Regions from separate parts of the Homo sapiens genome. Here region 2 is linked to region 1. The links come from fine-mapping of genetic effects on gene expression. A gene starts in region 1. The other region holds a variant in brackets. All regions are shown on one strand. Distances are between the middles of the regions.

Evidence for each region. PIP is the estimated chance that this variant, and not a neighbour inherited with it, causes the effect.
Region 2: its variant is fine-mapped to the expression of DNAAF3 in thyroid (GTEx, PIP 0.93).

The regions. Positions count from the first base shown.
Region 1 is chr19:55,160,385-55,170,482 of GRCh38, reverse strand. DNAAF3 (dynein axonemal assembly factor 3) reads left to right here and starts at 3,870. Exons shown (of 12, transcript NM_001256715.2): 1 at 3,870-3,960; 2 at 4,066-4,154; 3 at 4,483-4,625; 4 at 5,020-5,113; 5 at 8,193-8,350; 6 at 8,658-8,840; 7 at 9,065-9,190; 8 at 9,296-9,418; 9 at 9,708-9,843. The coding sequence starts at 4,070. DNAAF3-AS1 (DNAAF3 antisense RNA 1) reads right to left here. Exons shown (of 4, transcript XR_007067345.1): 2 at 9,269-9,437; 3 at 5,683-5,939; 4 at 3,579-4,664. LOC124904795 (small nucleolar RNA U13) reads right to left here and starts at 3,312; the gene lies at 3,209-3,312. RefSeq lists silencers at 4,259-4,490, 9,747-9,856 and an enhancer at 8,805-9,731.
Region 2 is chr19:55,222,752-55,232,849 of GRCh38, reverse strand. TMEM86B (transmembrane protein 86B) reads left to right here and starts at 4,087. Exons shown (of 3, transcript NM_173804.5): 1 at 4,087-4,159; 2 at 4,413-4,659; 3 at 5,287-6,212. The coding sequence starts at 4,109. The coding sequence ends at 5,669. It overlaps PPP6R1 (protein phosphatase 6 regulatory subunit 1), which reads left to right. Exons shown (of 24, transcript NM_014931.4): 18 at 639-775; 19 at 868-1,048; 20 at 1,182-1,252; 21 at 1,359-1,440; 22 at 1,966-2,076; 23 at 2,166-2,237; 24 at 2,319-3,071. The coding sequence ends at 2,322. It overlaps MIR6804 (microRNA 6804), which reads left to right and starts at 1,898; the gene lies at 1,898-1,965. The variant C/T (reference allele first, on the strand shown) is at 4,529.

The DNA of each region.
Region 1 (10,098 bases):
AAGTGAAGGAAGCCGGATACAGAAGGCTGCATAGTGCAGTATTCCATCCAAAAGAAATCTCCTGCACTGACAAATACATAGAGACAGAAAGTAGATTCGTGGTTGCCAGGGACAGAGGAGAGAGAAATGGGGAGATAAATGGGGTACGTGTTTTCTTTTGGAGTGATGAGAAAGTTCTGGAATTAGACAGTGGTGATGGTTGCACAGCATTGCAAGTGTACTAAATGTCATTCCCAATCAACTTAATAGTGTGTGTGTTTTACACCAATTTAAAAAGAAAACAAGGCCAAGCACGATGGCTCATGCCTTAATCCTAGCACTTTGGGAGGCAGGAGGATTGCTTGGGGCCCAGGGTTAGACACCAGCCTGGATAACCTCTCTATTTTTAAAATTTGTAAAGTTAGCTAGGTATGCTGGCACGTGGCTATAGTTCTAGCTACTTGGGGAGCAGAGGTGGGAGGATCGATTGAGCCCAGGAGTTTCAGGCTGGAGTACTCCAGCCTAGGCAACAGAGCAAGTCCCTGCCTTAAATAAATAAATAAATAAATACAGCCGGGCGCAGTGGCTCACGCCTGTAATCTCAGAATTTTGGGAGGCCAAGGCCGGCGGATCACTTGAGGTCGGGAGTTTGAGACCAGCCTGACCAACACGGAGAAACCCTGTCTCTACTAAAAATACAAAATTAGCTGGGCGTGATGGCACATGCCTGTAGTCCCAGCTACTCAGGAGGCTGAGGCAGGAGAATGGCTTGAACCCGGCAGGTGGACGTTGCAGTGAGCCGAGATAGCGCCATTGCACTCCAACCTGGGCAACAAGAGTGAAACTCCATCTCAAATAAGTAAATAAATAACAGCCTGGGCAACTAGTGAGACCCTTTCTCTACATAAATAAATAAATAAATATCCGGGCATGGCGGCACTTGCCTGTGGTCCCAGCTACTCAGGGGACTGAGGTGGGAGGACTGCTTGAGCCTGAGAGGTTGAGGCTGCAGTGAGCTATGATCACACCACTGAACTCAAGTCTGGATAACAGAGCAAGACTTTGTCTCAAAAATAAATATATAGAAAACAAAGATGAGGGGGAAGATAATTTAAGGCAAAAGAATCCCAAGTTGCAAAGGCCCTGGGGTTCAAACGGCTTGGTGTGTTCTCCAAGGAGCCAGGAGGCTGATGTGGCTTCAGGGGTGGATGACTGCAGATTGCATAGGGCATAGGGAGCCAAGCTAAGGAGCGGGGAATGTGTCCAGGTGCAGCGGGAAGACTTTGGAGGATTTGAAGAGGTGGGAGACATTATTTGATTTATGTTTAAGATCACTCTGGGCCAGGTGCAGTGGCTCACACCGGTAATTCCAGCACTTTGGGAGGCTGAGGCCGGCGGAACTCTTGAAGTCAGGAGTTCGAGACCAGCCTGGCTAACATGGTGAAACCCCGTCTCTACTAAAAATAAAAAAGAATCGCTGGAGCTGGGCACGGTGGCTCACGCCTGTAATCCTAGCGCTTTGGGAGGCCAAGGCAGGTGGATTGCCTGAGCTCAGGAATTCGAGACCAGCCTGGGCAACACGGTGAAACCTCGTCTCTACTAAAATACAAAAAATTAGCTGGGCGTGGCAGCGTGCGCCTGTAATCCCAGCTACTTGGGAGGCTGAGGCAGGAGAATTGCTAGAACCCGGGAAGCGGAGGTTGCAGTGAGCCAAGATCGTGCCACTGCACTCCAGCCTGGGCGACAGAGCAAGACTCCGTCTCTAAAAAAAAAATAATAAATAAATAAATCGCCTGGCTCGGTGGTTCACACCTGTAATCCCAACACTTTGAGAGACCAAGGCGGGCAGATCACCTGAGGTCGTGAGTTGGAGACCAGCCTGACCAACACGGAGAAACCCTGTCTCTACAAAAAATACAAAATTAGCCGGGCGTCCTGGCGCCTGCCTGTAATCCCAGCTACTCGGGAGGCTGAGGCAGAAGAATGGCTTGAACCCGGGAGGCGGAGGTTGCGGTGAGCCGAGATCGCGCCATTGCACTCCAGCCTGGGCAACAAGAGTGAAACTCTCTCTCTCTCTCTCTCTCTCTCTCTCTCTCTATATATATATATATATATATGTATATATATGTATATTTGTATTTTATTTTGTATATATATACAAAATATTTGTATTTTATTTTGTGTATATATAAATATATATACATATATTTGTATTTTATTTTGTGTGTGTATATATATATATATACACAAAATAAAATACAAATACAAAAATTAGCTGGTGTGGTGGCAAATGCCTGTAGTCCCAGCTACCTGGGAGGCTGGGACAGGAGAATCGCTTGAACCCGGGAGGCGGAGGTTTCAGTGAGCCGAGATCGCGCCACTGCACTCCAGCCTGGGTGTCACAGCAAGACTCCATCTCAAAAAAAAAAAATGTCACTCTGGTTCCTTTGCTGAGAATTTGTTGGGAGAGTGGGAGAAATAGGGAGGAAAGGCATTAATTCTCCAGAGAGAAACCCAGGATCTGGGGCTCTTGCAGGCTTAGAGCTGGCCTGGAAGGGGCTGGTTAGCCAGCCTGATTCTGCAGGAATGTCTGAGGTCTCAACCTTCGTTTCCCCAGTAGGTATTGTCTTCCCAGTGCCCAGATCTGCCCTCAGGAGGCAGATCCGCTGCACCTCTGCCCGCTGCACGCTACATTCCCATTTCACAGAGCAGCAGACTGAGGCTCAGAAAGGGTGACTGGTCTAAGCTCATGTGTCTGGGCAAGGAGAGGAGGCAGAGAGCCAAGTCCCCTTGGGCGCTGAGCCCAGTGCTGGGTGCTGGGGTGATCTAGAGATGTGCCTCATTCAGACTTTGGTTTTTCTTTTTTTTTTTTTTGAGACAGAGTCTTGCTCTGTCGCCCAGGCTGGAGTTCAGAGGCGCGATCTCAGTTCACTGCAACCTCTGCCTCCCAGGTTCAACAGACTCTCCTGCCTCAGCCTCCGGAGTAGCTGGGATTACAGGTGCGTGCCACCACGCCCGGTTAATTTTTGTATTTTTTAAGGTCGAGGCGCGGTTTCACCATGTTGGCCAGACTGGTCTCCAACTTCTGACCTCAAGTTATCTGCCCACCTTGACCTCCCAAAGTGTTGGGATCACAGGCGTGGCCACAGCGCCCGGCCGACTTACCCTTATTTTAATGCAGTTGATTTAACTGTACGATTACAGAATTTACCTGTAATTTTTTTGTTCATGTCAGAAGAGTAATGTGCCGATGTCGTAACAAGGTTTGAGGGAGGCACATCTCACGCATGCGCGTGAACACCCAATCATCCCGCTTAGAAACTACAAAAGGATCTAGCTGTAAGTTTAAATTATGGCTTCGTGTAACAATAACCAGCTCACAAATCCCTGAATTTTTAATGACCTGCACATCAGTGTCCCACCTGTGGGCTGTTCTGTGTGGTAGAGCCCACGTTGTGCTGGGGCGGGGAGCGGGCTCAGAAGCCTGCCATCTAAAGTCTAGACACTTCACTTTATTTGAATTGATGAAAATTCCGTTACGTATGAGCAAAGGCATATGAAGAAAACAAAAAAACAAAAAACAAGAAATAAGATTAAGCTCCCTTCACTCTCAATTTTAATCAGCCCAGGCCTCCCCCATTCCAGAAATTTGGACCGACCCTGACTCCGCCCCAACCTGTTCTAGCACCGCCCCTTCCCCCGCCGGCGCCGTCGTCATGACAACCGCGTCCACACGCCCTCTTCTCCTAGGTGTGGGGGAAGGCTGGCCCTCAGTGCTCCCATTGGCCAAAAGTTTGTAGAGGGCGGGCCTCGCTCACTCTCATTGGTCAGTTGCTCGCTGTGGTCCCATCCCACATGCTTCCATTGCTTGATTCCTCGAAAAGGGCGGGGACTCTGGGCAGCGGTTGTGGAGTGCCGCGGGTCCACAGTGCTGCACTGAGCAGAGAGGAAGGGGCGTCCCGGGATATTTGGAGGATAAAGGTGTGGGCAAGGTATCATGTGGAGGCAAAGGGGCGAGAAGTGAGGGGCGGTGAGAGGGGAGCGGGGCGGGCAATGTGTGCGATTCCCAGAATGTCTTTTCCGCAGGGTGATGACCACACCTGCCGGCTCCGGCAGCGGCTTCGGCTCCGTGTCCTGGTGGGGCCTGTCCCCGGCGCTGGACCTGCAGGCTGAAAGTGAGTCCCAGCACGCAAGGTCTGATACACCGTCTGCCTTCCCAGCCTGAGCAGACGGCCTTTTAGAGCTCGTAGTCCCAGCGTCGGTGGCAAGGGGGGCGCTAACGTTCTCCAACGCTCCAGCGGCAGAGGGCGCGCTCCCAGGGGCAGCCCCGAGGTCCTGTCTGCGGACTGCGAATCCCAGAATACTCAGAGGAAACACCTCCCCTTAGAACCTAGGCCACGGGCGGAACGCCTACTGGGATTTGTAGTCCATTTTTTATAGGGGATGCTACGGTGGACGCTCTGCCAACCACCATGGTGCCCCAGCCAGCTGTCATCTTGCCAGGTCCTCCTGTGGACCCAGACTCCCAGGCCGATACAGTGCACAGCAACCCCGAGCTAGATGTGCTGCTTCTGGGCTCTGTGGATGGACGGCACCTGCTGCGGACCCTGTCCCGAGCGAAGTTCTGGCCTCGCAGGAGGTTCAACGTGAGCTGGGATGAAGATGAGAGCCCAGATTCCCGAGTCCTTGAGGGAGGAAGGGATTGAAATTCTAAAACCTCAGGTCCAGGAATGAAGGGGCTGGAGACTCCTAGATCTGAGGGAGGCAGAAGCTGGGAGCGAACCGATGCGTCTTGGGGGAAGGAAGGGGCTGGGGTTTGGAACTCCTGGGTTCTATAGTGGGGAAGAGCTCGAGGATGAGGTCTTCTGAGTAATGGAAGGGAAGAGAGCTCTGGGGACACAGACTTCTGTGTTTGAAGGAAGAGGCTGGTGTACAGAACTCGGGTGTGTGGAAGGAGAGAGCTGAGGGCCTGCTCTCCTGGGTCTCCTAGGACCCAGGCAAACAGGTCTCAGAATTATTCTGCCCTGTCCATCCTTCTAGTTCTTTGTGCTGGAGAATAATCTGGAAGCTGTGGCCCGACACATGCTGATCTTCAGCCTAGCCCTGGAGGAACCGGAGAAGATGGGGCTGCAAGGTCTGTTGCTAGGACCCAGGCATTCTGACCGCTGGTCTCCTCCCCCTCCCTAGAGGGATTCTGGCATTTCAATGGTACAATTAAAAAGTTTGGTTATTTTCCTGGGAGGCGGAGGTTACAGTGAGCCGAGATCGCGCCATTGCACTCCAGCCTAGGCAACAAGAGCGAAACTCCGGCCGGGCGCGGTGGCTCACGCCTGTTAATCCCAGCACTTTGGGAGGCCGAGGCAGGAGAATGGCGTGAACCCGGCAGGCGGAGCTTGCAGTGAGCTGAGATCGCGCCACTGCACTCCAGCCAGGGTGACAGAGCGAGACTCCGTCTCAAAAAAAAAAAAAAAAAAAAAAAAAAGAGAGCGAAACTCCATCTAAAAACCAAAAATGTTTGGTATTTTCCAGTGTGGTACCTCTGATGAAAAAAAAAATCCAATATATTTATTGATGATGGTCCCCTCTGATGTAATTTGCCATCTTAGAGCCTCAGCTCCTCCTACCTGTAAAATGGGGCTAAATATAATACATCTTAGAGCCACTTAGAAAATTCCAGGAGAGGCTGGGTGCAGTGGTTCACACCTGTAATCCCAGCACTTTGGGAGGCTGAGGTGGGCAGATCACGAGGTCAGGAGATCGAGACCATCCTGCTCAACATGGTGAAACCCCGTCTCTACTAAACATACAACAATTAGCCGGGTGTGGTGGCAGGCGCCTGTAGTCCCAGCTACTCGGGAGGCTGAAGCAGGAGAATCACTTGAACCCGGGAGGCAGAGGTTGCAGTGAGCCGAGATCACACCACTGCACTCCAGCCTGGGCGACAAAAGCAAAACCTCCATCTAAAAAAAAAAGAAAGAAAGAAAAAGAAAACAGGTTTGTTTGTTTATTTATTTATTTATTTGAGGCAGAGTCTTGTCCCGTTGCCCAGATTGGAGTGCAATGGCACGATCTTGGCTCTCCATAACCTCTGCCTCCTGGATTCAAGCAATTCTCCTGCCTCAGTCTCCCAAGTAGCTGGGATTACAGGCATGCACCACCATGCCCGGCTAAGGTTTTGTATTTTTAGTAGAGCCGGGGTTTCACCATGTTGGCCAGGATGGTCTCGAGATGCTGACCTCAGGTGATCCGCCCGCCTTGGCCTGCCAAAGTGCTAGGTTTACAGGCGGGTGCGATCACACCCGGCCCCAAGAAAAGAGGTTTAATTGACTCACAGTTCCACAGGCTGTACAGGGAGTATGGCTGGGAAGGCCTCAGGAAACTTACAATCATGACAGGAGGCGAAGGGGATGCAGGCATCTGTTCCACGGCAGGAAAAGGGGCAAGAGAGGCAGTGGGGAAGAGGCGCACACTTGCAAATAACCAGATTTTGTGGGAACTCACTATCACGAGAACAGCAAGGGAGAAATCTGCCCCTGTGACCCAATCACCTCCCACCAGGCCCCGCCTCCAATATTGGGGATTACAATTCAACATGAGATTTAAGCAGGGACACAGATCCAAACCATATCAGTCATTAATGACCCAGGGAATTCAGAGTACATTGCACAGTACAGATTGTTCAAAGTTCTTAAACAGTTAGAACTAAACTGATCTATTTTACTAAAGGCACATAGTTCTCTTCTATTAAGTTCTTAAACAACTAACATGAAACTATTTGTATGTCTATGTGTATATATATTATATGCAAAGGTATATACAGTCATCCCTCAGTAACACTGGGGACTGGTTCCAGGACCCCTGCAGATACCAAGATCCAAGGATGCTCAAGTCCCTTATAAAATTGTATAGTATTGCCAGGGGCGGTGGCTCACGCCTGTAATCCTAACACTTTGGGAGCCTGAGGTGGGAGGACTGCTTGAGACCACGAGTTTGAGACTGGCCTGGTCAACATAGTGAGACCCCGTCTCTACAAGAAATAAAATATTGGCCGGGCGCGGTGGCTCACGCCTGTAATCCCAGCACTTTGGGAGACCGAGGCAGGCAGATCACGAGGTCAGGAGATCGAGACCATCCTGGCTAACACGGTGAAACCCCGTCTCTACTAAAAATACAAAAAAAAAAAAAAAAAAATTAGCCGCCGGGCGCGATGGCTCACGCCTGTAATCCCAGCACTTTGGGAGGCTGAGGCGGGTGGATCACGAGGTCAGGAGATCGAGACCATCCTGGCTAACACGTGAAACCCCGTCTCTACTAAAAATACAAAAAATTAGCCGGGTGTGGTGGCGGGCGCTTGTAGTCCCAGCTACTCCGGAGGCTGAGGCAGAAGAATGGCGTGAACCCGGGAGGCGGAGCTTGCAGTGAGCCGGGATCGCGCCACTGCACTACAGTCTAGGCGACAGAGCGAGACTCCGTCTCAAAAAAAAAAAAAAAAAAAAAAAAAAAAAAGAAAAAGAAAAGAAAAAGAAATAAAACATTAGCTGGGTGTGGTAGCTAATGCCTAGCCCCAGCTAGCTGGGAAGCTGGAGGAGGAGGGTCCCTTAAGCTCAGGTGGTCGAGGTAACAGTGAACTATGATGGCACAACTGCATTCAGCCTGGGCAACAGAGTGAGACACTGTCTCAAAACAAAAAAGATGTACTTACAAATAGCCTGTACACATGGTCCCATACACCGCAAATCATCTCTAGATTACCTATAATATGTAATACAATGTAAATGCTTACACCATATTTTACAATTTGTATTATTTTTTACTGTTGTGTTGTTATCTTTTCCCCCAAATATTCTCTGTCTGCGGTGAGTGTGGAATCTGCAACTCTAATTCCCTCTTCTAGGTGGTTATTTATTTATTTATTTTAGAGGCGGAGTCTCACTCTGTTGCCCAGGCTGGAGTGCAATGGCATGATCTCGGCCCATTGCAACCTCCGCCTCCGGGTTCAAGCGATTCTCCTGCCTCAGCCTCCCGAGTAACTGGGATTACAGGCGCCCGCCACCATGTCCGGCCCTGTTCTTCATGTAGTTTTTGGGATGCGTGGGGAGTTTGCGGGGGTTCATTGTTTTCATTAGATGACTATGACATAATAACATATTAAGGGTGTAATTTCTGGGCTCCCTCCTCCACACATTCCCGCAATTATCTCCCTCTCTCCGTAGAGCGAAGCGAGACCTTCCTGGAAGTGTGGGGGAACGCGCTGCTGCGCCCGCCAGTGGCCGCCTTCGTGCGTGCCCAGGCCGACCTGCTGGCGCACCTGGTCCCCGAGCCCGACCGCCTGGAGGAACAGCTGCCCTGGCTCAGCCTCCGCGCCCTCAAGGTGCCGCCGCCCGGCCTCCATCTGGGATCGGGTGGCCGCGGGAATAATGGAAGCGCACAGTCCAAAGGACGTGCGTTGATGGAGCAGGCGGCGGGCTAGGGGGTTCGAATCCCAGTTCCCCGACTCCCACTGTGGGATTTGGCCTGGGGGCAGGAGGTGGCTTCTGCTTTCGGAGCCTCAGTTTTTCCATCCGAGAAACGGGGGAATCGTTCCCCTGTTCTGGGATGGAAGAGAGGGTCAATTAGAATCCGCTCTCCCTGCATCCCTCTCTGCCTTCCTCTGTCCCACCGCGTGCCTGGCCCCGCAGTTCCGCGAGCGGGATGCCCTGGAGGCCGTATTCCGCTTCTGGGCTGGCGGCGAGAAAGGGCCCCAGGCGTTCCCCATGAGCCGCCTCTGGGACTCGCGCCTGCGCCACTACCTGGGCTCCCGCTACGACGCCCGGCGCGGTGTCAGCGACTGGGACCTGCGCATGAAGCTGCATGACCGCGGGGTGAGGGGCCCAGGAGAGGGGCTGGGGGCCTGGACCCCTGGGTCTGAGGGAGGAGGGGCTGGGGGCCTCCTGAGTCTGAGGGAGGAGGGTTTGGGGGCCTGAACTCCTGGGTCTGAGGGAGGAGGGCCTGGGGACCTGGACTCCTGGGTCTGAGGGAGGCTGGTGTAGGGGTCTCTCCACGCTCGGTTCACTGAGGGCTCCCTTCTTCCCGCCCCCCACCCCAGGCTCAAGTCATTCACCCCCAGGAGTTCCGACGCTGGCGGGACACAGGCGTCGCCTTTGAACTCAGGGACTCCAGCGCCTATCATGTGCCCAACCGGACCCTGGCGTCCGGTCGCCTCCTGAGCTACGTGCGTGTCCACTGCCTGTCCTGGCCCACTGCTGCTGCTCGGAGTCCTAGGAGTCAGGGGCCCCAACATCGACCTCACCTGCCTCCTCTCTCCCTCCTTTTCCAGCGTGGGGAGCGCGTGGCAGCGCGCGGGTACTGGGGGGACATCGCCACGGGGCCCTTCGTGGCCTTCGGCATCGAAGCGGACGACGAGAGCCTCCTGCGGACGAGCAACGGCCAGCCAGTCAAGGTGCGCGGCGAGGCTGGGACTGGGGGTAGAGGTGGGGCTGGGGGTCGGTGGGTGCGCAAGGCCCCGCCCCCACAGCAGGCCCCGCCCCCAGCTCCAGACCCCGCCCGTCGCTTGGTGGGAACGACTCCATTCAGAGAACAGGCCCCATCCCCGCGGGATAGGTCCCGCCCCACTTCACATCCTCCAAGCAGCTGCGGGAGTTCTAGTCCTGGACCGAGGACTCCCAGCGTTCTAAGCCCCGCCCCGCCATCCTGGCCCCGACGTCTGGCCACGCCCCTTCTACTGTTAGACGGCCGGGGAGATCACTCAACACAACGTGACGGAGCTGCTCCGCGACGTGGCCGCCTGGGGGCGCGCGAGAGCCACCGGGGGGGACCTGGAGGAGCAGCAGCACGCGGAGGGAAGCCCGGAGCCAGGGACTCCAGGTAAGCCAGGGACAACAACAGGTAAGCCAGGGACTCCAGCCTCCAGGTGTTTCACACTGGAGTGTGGACTGACATGATTTGGAATGCCTGGGCAAGTGACGGCTTCTTGATATTCTGTCTCTTTTTCTCTCTTTCTCTCCCTTTCCTAAATTCTGAGAGCATGCTTAGAATTCTGAATTCCACTAGCAGAATTCTAATCTTATCTGCAGAGGGCTAAGCTATCCAAGAATATTCTCACAGGGTGCTGGGTCCCAG
Region 2 (10,098 bases), 62 kb before region 1:
AGCTTAGTTTTAGTGTTACTTTGCTTACCCCTTCCCCGGTTGATCAGCACGTAGGTTGCTTGGATTTTCTTCATGCTCACAGGTGTGTGTTAGTCAACATTCAGCCAGTGTTTTTGGAGCAGCTATGGGTGCCTGGTGGTTTCTCAGGGCTGAGGATACAGCAGTGGCAAAACTCAGCCATCTCTGCCTTCTTGGAGTTTCTAGTTGGAGGGAGAGAGTAGTGTGAAGCCTCTGTCCAGAGGGTGGGCCTGCTGGTGGGAAGGCCTGTCACTGTGGTGACCGTGTGAGGTGACGGCTGGGAGGTGGCTTGAGAGCTGGTGAGTGGGTCTGTCTGCTCTGGTTGCCATGGCTGAGGCTCAGCCCACTTCCCCAGGGCCTGCCCTCCACGGATGACTGGCGACGGACGGTCTCCTTACGGCCGCATTCTGTCCCTGCCCGCCTGTGTTCTTGCCGTTGGCTCAGAACTCCCTCTCCCAGCCTCTCCTGGTGTCGTCACACCCCAGGCTCCCTGGACCCTTCTGTGACCTGCCTGTCATCCCAGCCCGCTCTCCTTGGGCTGACCCTGGGCTGCAGGGAACAGGATGGGTGTCGGCCGGTCTGTCCCACACAGCTAGCTGACGAGGTGGTTTCTGGGGCAGGAGTGGAGGCAGCACAGACAGTGAGGACGAAGAAGAGGAGGACGAGGAGGAGGAGGAAGACGAGGAGGGCATTGGCTGTGCAGCCCGTGGAGGGGCCACCCCTCTGTCCTACCCCAGCCCTGGCCCTCAGCCTCCAGGTGAATGAATGGGCGGTGTGGTCAGGTGTACACAGGGCTGTCTGCCTGCTACTGAGTTCACCCTCCATCCCGCTCCCCCACCTCTATCCCAGGCCCCAGCTGGACAGCCACCTTTGACCCAGTGCCTACAGATGCCCCGACCAGCCCCCGAGTCTCCGGGGAGGAAGAGCTGCACACTGGGCCTCCAGCCCCACAGGGGCCCCTCAGTGTGCCCCAGGGCCTCCCCACTCAGAGCCTGGCCAGCCCTCCTGCCCGTGACGCCCTGCAGCTCAGGTGAGAACCGGATGGAACGGGCTAAATGGTGCTGGTATCCCGAGGCCAGGAGGTGGCCATGGGGTCCCCGTCCTCTCATAGGCTCGAGTGCTAACCCTAGCTGCCCCCTTGGGCTGCCTCTCTCGCCTACCAGGTCTCAGGACCCCACACCCCCCTCAGCACCTCAGGAAGCCACAGAAGGCAGCAAAGTCACGGAGCCCTCAGGTGAGCCCCGCTTTGCCCTGCCCACCCGCGGCCCTGGGCAGAGAGAGCAGCCTGGCCAGCTCCGAGCTTGCTGGGAGCTGCAGCTGAGATCTCTTATCCCCCACAGCCCCTTGCCAGGCCTTGGTTAGCATCGGGGACCTTCAGGCCACCTTCCACGGGATCCGTTCTGCCCCCAGCTCCTCGGACAGGTGAGCAGCGAGGTGGGGCTGCCTAGTATCGGGAGAAGTCTTTTCTCCTCTTCGCTGAGGTGGGCTCTGGGTTCATCTTGTCCCTGAGCTGCTCCAGGCCTCCTTTGCAGGACCCCCAGGCGCAGCCTCATGTTGTGCCCCAGCCCCTTGCACTCTGTAGGCTGGTTCTTCTCTTAGTAGCCTGGGATGCTTGGGGCCCTTGAGCCCCAGGGTTGGGAAGGGCTCGTTGGAGGGTGTGAAGGATTGGGAGGGTGAGAGCATGCAGAAGACCCTTTGGGGCTGTCTCAGCCGGCCTCGAGTACCTCCTCCACAGGGACAGGAGGCGGGAAGAGGGGTGCTTGTCTTCCTGTCCAGGGCTGTGCTGTCCCTCCACGCTGAGCCAGCTGCGTCCTCGGGAGGCCCCTCCCCGTGGGGCAGGTGGCAGACACACACCCAGTGAGCCGACTTCAGTCGGGTGGGATGTGAGGGTGTCAGCAGGTGACGGTGGGGGCCACGCTGACAGCCGCACCTGCCTCTCACCCACAGTGCAACCAGAGACCCCTCTACCTCTGTCCCAGCCTCCGGGGCCCACCAGCCCCCCCAGACCACAGAAGGGGAGAAGAGCCCAGAGCCCTTGGGGCTTCCCCAAAGCCAGAGGTGAGCACCAGGGCAGCAGGGCGGGGGGGTGGGGGTGGGGCTGGTGGGGCAGGAAGTGACCTCTGCACATCCCCTCTCTCCCCTGACAGTGCCCAGGCCCTCACGCCTCCTCCGATACCCAATGGCTCTGCCCCGGAAGGGCCTGCATCCCCAGGCTCCCAGTGAGTGTGGCTGCAGCCTCGGGCTGGGTAGGTGGGGCTGGGCCTGCTAGACCCTCACACGACATCTCCCTCTGTTTCCAGATAGCTGCCTGGTGCGGCAGCGGCGGCCAAATCTTCCGTCCTCCCGTGGATCTCCCGGGGTGGGGGCAGGGCGGGTCCCACGATGGCCCCCATTGCCCTCATCACCCTGACACCCCCACATTCTCTCCTCTGGACCCCCAGGAGGCTGGTGCCAGGGAGACAGGCCCAACCCACCCCCATTTGCACTGAGAAGAGAAGTTTTGGAGCGTTGCCTCCTAGAATAAAGATACAGAGAGTCAAATAGAGAGAATGGAGAGAGAGAAACATATATTATATATTATATAGAGAGAGGGAGGAGAGCGAGAGAGAGTGAGGACACCGAACTGGGCTGGCGGCTCCAAAGCACAGCCTTCCCTGTTCCGTCCCAGCGGGAGCTGGTGTTAGGGGTCCCAAGGTTGCCACCCACGTGCCCAGCTGTCCCACGCTGCAGCGCAGACGGCCACGCCCACACCCGGCCTTTTAGCTCAGGTCCACCATGGGGGACGGCCCAGCGTGGGTGGGGGTGCCAGAGGGTCCCGAGTGGGGGCCGTGCCTTTGCCCAGACCCTGCACTTTCAACCAGGCCAGTCCGGCTCTGGGGAGCAGGGGCCTCCCCGGCAACAGCCCCAGGGGCCTTGAGGGTCTGAGGTCCCAGCCCTGTTGCCAAGTGACCTTGTCCCCAGCTCCCTCCTCCCAGGCTGGTGTGAGTGTGCGTGCGTTTGTGCCGAGCTTCTATTTCATATTGCAAATATAAATAAAGGAAGGCAGTTTACGATTCTGCTGGTCAGACCTTACGTTCTGGGATGCGGGGTGGGGAGCCTGTATTATCCCTGCACCCCAGAGGCTGGGGGTGCTCCTGACCCAGTCTGCCCCCACACTGTCCTGCCAGAGGGAGCCCTGTGGCTGCAGAGGCCCCAGGCTGGGCCAGGCACTGGCTGTGAGGGCTCCTGCCAGGTCTACCCCACCTGTGGGCAGGGCCTTGGGCAGAGGATAGAAGCCACCGACAGGCTCAAATCCCTGCTCCTGCCCCTGCTTACCCCCAGTAACCAAGCCCAGCATTGAGGCTGGGTACTGGCGCCCAGTAGGTCTGAGTCTTTCAGGTAGAAGGTAGAAGTGTAGGCTGCGTGTGCAGCGAGTGGCACCGGTGAGCGGCGCTGGGAAACCGGAGCGTGTGGACCGGGCCATGAGGACAGCGTCCTCACTGGGGTGGCAGTTGGCTTGGAGGTCACCTGGGGGCTCGCTCAGCTAACAGGAGAGGGTGCTTGTTCCCCGCATTCGTGGTGGTCCCTCCTGGTCACCCATTGAAGCAGTGTTTGTGGTGGAGCCCCTGAGGGCTTGGTGGGGTTGAGCAGAATGAGGAAAGGTTTCATGGAGCAGGGAGGGAGACGGCTAGGGCAGCAAGTGAAGGACAGACTCGCCTTCCCATCCCTCCAGGGGCACTCCTGCCAGCCAGCCCCTCTCCCGCTTCCCATGATGGGGTGGCTGTTGGAATTCTGCACCCCATCTCTTCTGATTGTTGGGGCCCAGGACAAGGGGACAGGCATTTGTGGGCCTAACCTCCCCAGGCAGATAGGAGGAGGAAGCCATGTCCCAGCAGGCTAGGGCAGAGGGACCCCCAGTGCCAACAGTGCTTTATCAGCGGGCGCCAGGCAGGGCCATCCCCAGGGTGAGGACAACATCTCCCTGGGCCCTGTTATCAGTCACAGAGTCCACAGGACGCTCCTTGGGTTAACGTGTAACCATGAGCCCTCCCCTCCACCCCCTGAAGCCACTCGCTCCCAGATTAGGTCGCTCTGGGGCTATCAGGCCAGCATGGACGCTGGCAAAGCGGGGCAGACCCTGAAGACTCACTGCTCAGCCCAGGTGAGAGCCTTCTGAGCTGTGCCTGGGGCTGGGGGGACAGGGCCCTGGAACCCCAGCAGCCGGCGGGTCTGGGAGCTGCTGTCCTTGAGTTGGTTGGGCCCTGGGAAGCTGGGTTCTGGCAGCCTGGTCCCTGAATGGGTCCAGCCTGTACAGCTGGGGTCCCAGGTGGGGGTGGGACAGGAGCCATGAGATCTGAGTCCCAAGAATGGGGGCTGGGCTGGGTTTCGGCTCAGTAGCTCCCCACTCCCCAAAGCGCCCAGATGTCTGCAGGTGGCTGAGCCCCTTCATCCTCTCCTGCTGCGTGTACTTCTGCCTCTGGATTCCCGAGGACCAGCTGTCCTGGTTCGCTGCCCTGGTCAAGTGCCTGCC[C/T]GTCCTCTGCCTGGCTGGGTTCCTGTGGGTCATGTCCCCAAGCGGGGGCTACACCCAGCTCCTCCAGGGAGCCCTTGTGTGCTCGGCTGTGGGGGACGCTTGCCTCATCTGGCCGGCAGCCTTCGTCCCTGGTGAGTGGAAGGTGCTGTGACGCTTTCCAGATGCCCGTGTGAGAGAGGCCCCAGCACTTGGATGGGAGCCTGGGTGCAGAGGGCTCCTGTGAGAGCTCCAGTGGTCAAAGGCACAGTGGGGGGCGCAGCCGTGACCGAGGCAGCTCACGCTCCAGCGAGGGGTGGGGGCAGGCGGTGTTAGGGCAGTAGCTGAGGTGGCGCAGAGGGCAGTGAGGACCTGCTGGAGGTACTGCAGTTTGAAGCAGGGTTGCTGAGGAAGGCCTCACTGAGGAAGTCACATTTGGGCAGAGCTGAAGGGCTGTATGCCTGTGTGGAGGAAGGGCGAGTGTAAAGGCTCCGGGGCAGGGACGTGTCAGGTGCTTGTAGCCCAGCAGGCCAGGGTGGCTGGCGCAGAGTGGCTGGAGAGCTGGAGGCCATGGGGCTTTGGAGGCCAAGGGAAGGTGGGGCCTCCTGGCAGTTCTGAGCAGAGCAAGGATGGACACTGCATGTGGGGAGACCTGCAAGGAGGCTCGGCCAGGGTGGGGCCTGGTGCTCTGGGATGGTCCTTCTCTTAGGCCCTGAGGGGTGACCTCGGGGCCATTCCCAGGATGGGCCTTCCTCACTGGTACCCCACCCCTCTCCCGCCAGGCATGGCCGCCTTTGCCACCGCCCACCTCCTCTACGTCTGGGCCTTCGGCTTCTCTCCCCTGCAGCCCGGCCTGCTGCTGCTCATCATCCTGGCCCCTGGCCCCTACCTCAGCCTTGTGCTCCAGCACCTCGAGCCGGATATGGTCCTGCCGGTGGCAGCCTATGGGCTGATCCTGATGGCCATGCTGTGGCGCGGCCTGGCCCAGGGCGGGAGTGCCGGCTGGGGCGCGCTGCTCTTCACGCTCTCTGATGGCGTGCTGGCCTGGGACACCTTCGCCCAGCCCCTGCCCCATGCCCACCTGGTGATCATGACCACCTACTATGCTGCCCAGCTCCTCATCACACTGTCAGCCCTCAGGAGCCCGGTGCCCAAGACTGACTGACTAGGGAGCTTGAAGGGCCGGTGTTCAGGCCCTCTCCTCCTGCAAGGACCTGGGCCTCCCAGCCCAGCCCAGCCTGAGAAATACCCTCAGCAGCGAAGCTTCCTGACGCCTGTCTGCAGGCGCCGCTGCCGCCGTCGCTTCTGGCTGAAGACGTTTGAGGACGATTTGCGGAATTCCAAGTCCACTACTGGGTTCCAGCTGCCTTCCCCCGGTTCTGACTCCAGATCCCTGGCTCCTCAGCCAGGCCCACATGGAGCCCTCCCAGCCACCAGCCTGCCTCCATGTTCACTGTCGGCCCCACAGCCTGCCCGCCCCCTGCTGCTGCTCTGAATCCGTTTTCCCTGTGGGTGTGGAACCGTAGATGTTGCTGTTACCGTAGGAGAGGCCTCGGGGAGGGTCATGATTGTGATAAACCATCGCGGTTAATGACAGCAGAAGGTTCTTTGTCGCTCCCCATGGACCAGGCCTGGTGCCCAGTGGGACCCTCCATGGCCCTCTGGTGGGGGGATTCGGGGGGATAAAGTGAGGATTGTGCAGAACTGAGCCAAGAGGACTGTTTGGTCTTTGTGTTAGTTTCCTGAGGCTGCTGTCACAAATTACCCCAAGCCAGATGCTTTGAAACAAGATGAATGGACTCTCCTGCAGTTCTGGAGACCCAAAGTCCAAAATCCGGGTGTTTTCCGGCCCATGGTCCCTCTTGAGGCTCCAGGGAAGAATCCGTCCTTGCCCTCTCGGCTTCTGGAGGCTCCCGGGAATCCCTGGCTTCCATCGGCCTGTGGCTGTGTCTCTCCGTCTTCATGTGACTGTCTTCAACTGGCAGCCTCCCTCTGTGTCCGCATCCTTCTAGGGACACAGGTCATTGGATTTAGGGCCCACCCTAAACCCAGGGTGATTCTATCTCAAGATCCTTAAGTATGTCTGCAAAGCCCCTATTTCCAAGTAGTGTCACCTGCAGAGGTATCTGGGGTTAGGACTTGGACATATCTTTCTAGGGGATACAACCCGCTGCAGTCACATGCAGTATCGGGAGAAGGGTGGGAGGCTTGAGGATGAGGGGTCTTGGAGGAGGGAGGGCGGCAAGGGGGTAGGAATCAAATGGGAAGGAGGAACCCAGCTGTGCTCCTTGTCAAGGCTGTGTGACCTCGGCAAGCTGCTATCCCTCAGGTCCTCAGATTCTGCATCTGAAGACTTGACAGGGTCCAAGCTGCTCTCCAAGACCCTATTTGACTTCTGCATCCATGATGTGCTTTCAGTGACTCATAGCAGAGGGGCGACTTCTCCATCCATGGTTAGCATTTAGAGACTCTTACAGCAGAGAGGCGACCTCTCTATCCATGACCTGCATTTAGGGACTCTTAGAGCAGAGGTGACTTCTCCATCCATGACCTGCATTTAGGGACTCTTACGACAGAGAGGGGACTTCTCCATCCATGGCCAGCATTTAGGGACTCTTACAGCAGAGAGGTGACTTCTCCATCCATGACCTGCATTTAGGGACTCAGATGTGAGAGTACAGAGGTGGGAAGGGAAGGTGGGGAGCCTGGAGGACGGGGACCAGGAAGGAAAGTGAGGACAGGAATCCACAGTTGGAGTGAGGAGAAGTGGAAGCTGAGGGATTTCCTTGAGGAAGGGTCAGGCATGAGGAGGATCTGAAGGATTGGACTCAGGTTCGAAACCTCCACTTCCTCCTCATCTCCTACCCTCTCCACTCAGACCTGGCGAAAGGTGGGGAAAGAGGAAATTGCGCAGTGAAGTGTAGCAGGAGGGACGGGGGTCTGGGTGTGCAGATTCCAGGGGCACGTGGGGCCTGCAGACATGAGGGGTTCCTGGAGGTGAGGGAGGAGGGGCTGGAACCTGGACTCCTGGGTCTGAGGGAGGAGGGGCTGGGGCCCTGGACTTCTGAGTCTGAGGGAGGAGGGACTGGGGCCTGGACCCCTGAGTCTGAGGGAGGAGCTGGGGGCCTGGACTCCTGAGTCTGAGGGAGGAGGGGCTGGGCCTGGACTCCTGAGTCTGAGGGAGGAGGGGCTGGGCCTGGACTCCTGAGTCTGAGGGAGGAGGGGCTGGGGGTCTGGACTCCTGGGTCTGAGGGAGGAGGGGCTGGGGGTCTGGACTCCTGAGTCTGAGGGAGGAGGGGCTGGGGACCTGGACTTCTGGGTCTGGGGGAGGAGGGGCTGGGGGCCTGGGTCTGAGGGAGGAGGGGCTGGGGGCCTGGACTCCTGCGTCTGAGGGAGGAGGGGCTGGGGTCTGGACTCCTGAGTCTGAGGGAGGAGGGCCTGGGGGCCCGAACTCCTGGGTCTGGGAGAGGAGGGGCTGGACTCCTGAGTCTGTGGGAGGAGGGGCTGGGGGCCTGGACTCTTGAGTCTGAGGGAGGAGGGGCTGGGCCCATAATCCCTGGTGTTTGGGGAACATTCTGGCTTTTGGTCCCTGGGCTCTGTGGGGTCGGCAGTCCAGAGCGACGGGACGCTGCTCTCCTGTCGGCATCCAGCAGCCCCAGCGTCGTGTCCCTCCTCCCTGATTCTGGTCCCCCGACGACCTTTCATCTGACTTCTCAGAGGTCTGCTTTCTCATGATCTGATTCGTGTTTCTCTAAAGCGGGACTCTCGGAGGTGCTGCGCACATCCCTCTCAGGCTCCTTCCAGCCCTGCCGGGACCCAGACCTGGGGCAAGGGGCAAAACGCCGGCTCCATCTTCCCTCCCAAGCCGGGGTGGCTGGTGGGGATGAGGCGGGGTGGGACTCAGCAGCCTTCATCCCGATCCTGCAGGTCAGACCACCGTGGGTCTGATTCCCCATCTGGGCCCTCCCCAGGCCCTCGGGACCACGACAGAGGCCACAGCAGCAGGTTAGTGACCCCATCAGCCTCCATCCTGCACGTCTAGGAAGGGCCGTGGGATTCCGTCTTCTGTTTGCCGCAGAGGCTTCTACCCATGTCAGCCGCCAAAGCAGACAGAATCGTGAGTGTGGAGGCTCGGACCTCCAGCTCCATCACCCTGAGCTGGGCAGCCCCAAGGGCCCAGACCGGCAGACTTCCATCTACTGGGTCCAGGGGCATGGCCAGCGGGAACACAAGCACGTCACACTGCTGGCTCGTGGTGGAGGGCTTCAGCCTGGGACCCTCTACACCACCTCTGTGTGGGCCAAGAAGAAAGGAGTAGGTGGCCCCAGGGACGTCCTGAGCATGTCTACAGGTAAGAGGGGCCACCTTTCCACTGCCCAGCAACATGTGCGTGTGTGTGCACGTGCACTTGTGTGTGCATGTGTGTTTGCGTGTGTGTGCGCGTGCGTGCGTGTGCACATTTGTAAAAAGTGCCAGGCTGTGCACTTTATTCTCATTAGAGCCACAAACAAACTTTATCAAATGACTCTCTCCTTTCCACATTCCCAAACTAGTCCCTGGCCTGGTCACACCGGCTCAGACCACCAGCTCCCTCACCCTGAGGGCCCCGCAGGCCCAGACTCCAAGACCTGCCCCTACTGGCTCTGCTGGGCCAGTGACTCCTCAGACATCAGGGTGCCTGTGGAGGGCCTGGCTGCAGGGACGCAGTACCCCAGCATGTGGGCCCAGAAGCATGAGGTCAACAGCCCCAGCCAGACGCTCACAGAGGCCACGGGCGAGGGGTGAGAGCACTCTGGGCTTGGGGAGTAGGAGGCCTCAGGAGGCCTCTGGCATCGGCCCCACTGATAGGGTGCATCCTTCCAGAGCAAGCAGGGCTGTGGGAAGGAGGGGATGCTTCCCTTTGCTCTGGAGGCCCAGGGACTATGGGGTGTGGTCTGTGAAGCAGGTTCACTGTGCACTGGTTACCAACTTGCCAGAGTGATGAGACAGAACGCCACACGCAAAAAGTTACATGAAGTGGGCTTGTTTCTCACAGATGGGCAGCAAGGGACAGCAGAATCCCAGGGTCCGTTGTAAGCTGGTCCCCCAAGGCTTAGGAAAGTGGCCTAGGGAGGATAGGGTCACAACTGTGTGTGCCTCACTTGTATGGCAGCTGAGGGACCCCAAAAAGTACCCAGCCCTGGGTTTTCTACTCTGGGGGAAACCTGAGTCACCGGGCTCAAGCATTGAAGGGCATCCTGTTTCTAGGGCAGGCAGGAATGGAGCCCAGGCCGCCTGGCCAGTCCCTCCATATCTCCGGATGTTGCATTCCCAGCACATTCTACTGTTACTCTTGAGAACTACAAGTAAGAGACAACTGGGTCTGTTTAAGGCCACTCAGATAACCTTCCTGCAGGAACCCTGACCCCCTTCCCTTCCTTTCCTTACCCGGCCAGGTCATGGATCTGAGGATACAGGCTCAGACCCTGAGTTCTGTTACACTAAGGTGTATATCCCCCCGGGGCCCAGACCCCCACACCTACACCTACTGGGTCCAGTGGGCAGGGACCACGGCCCCCAGTGGGACCAGAAGTGTGGCAGAGATGGGGTTGTGG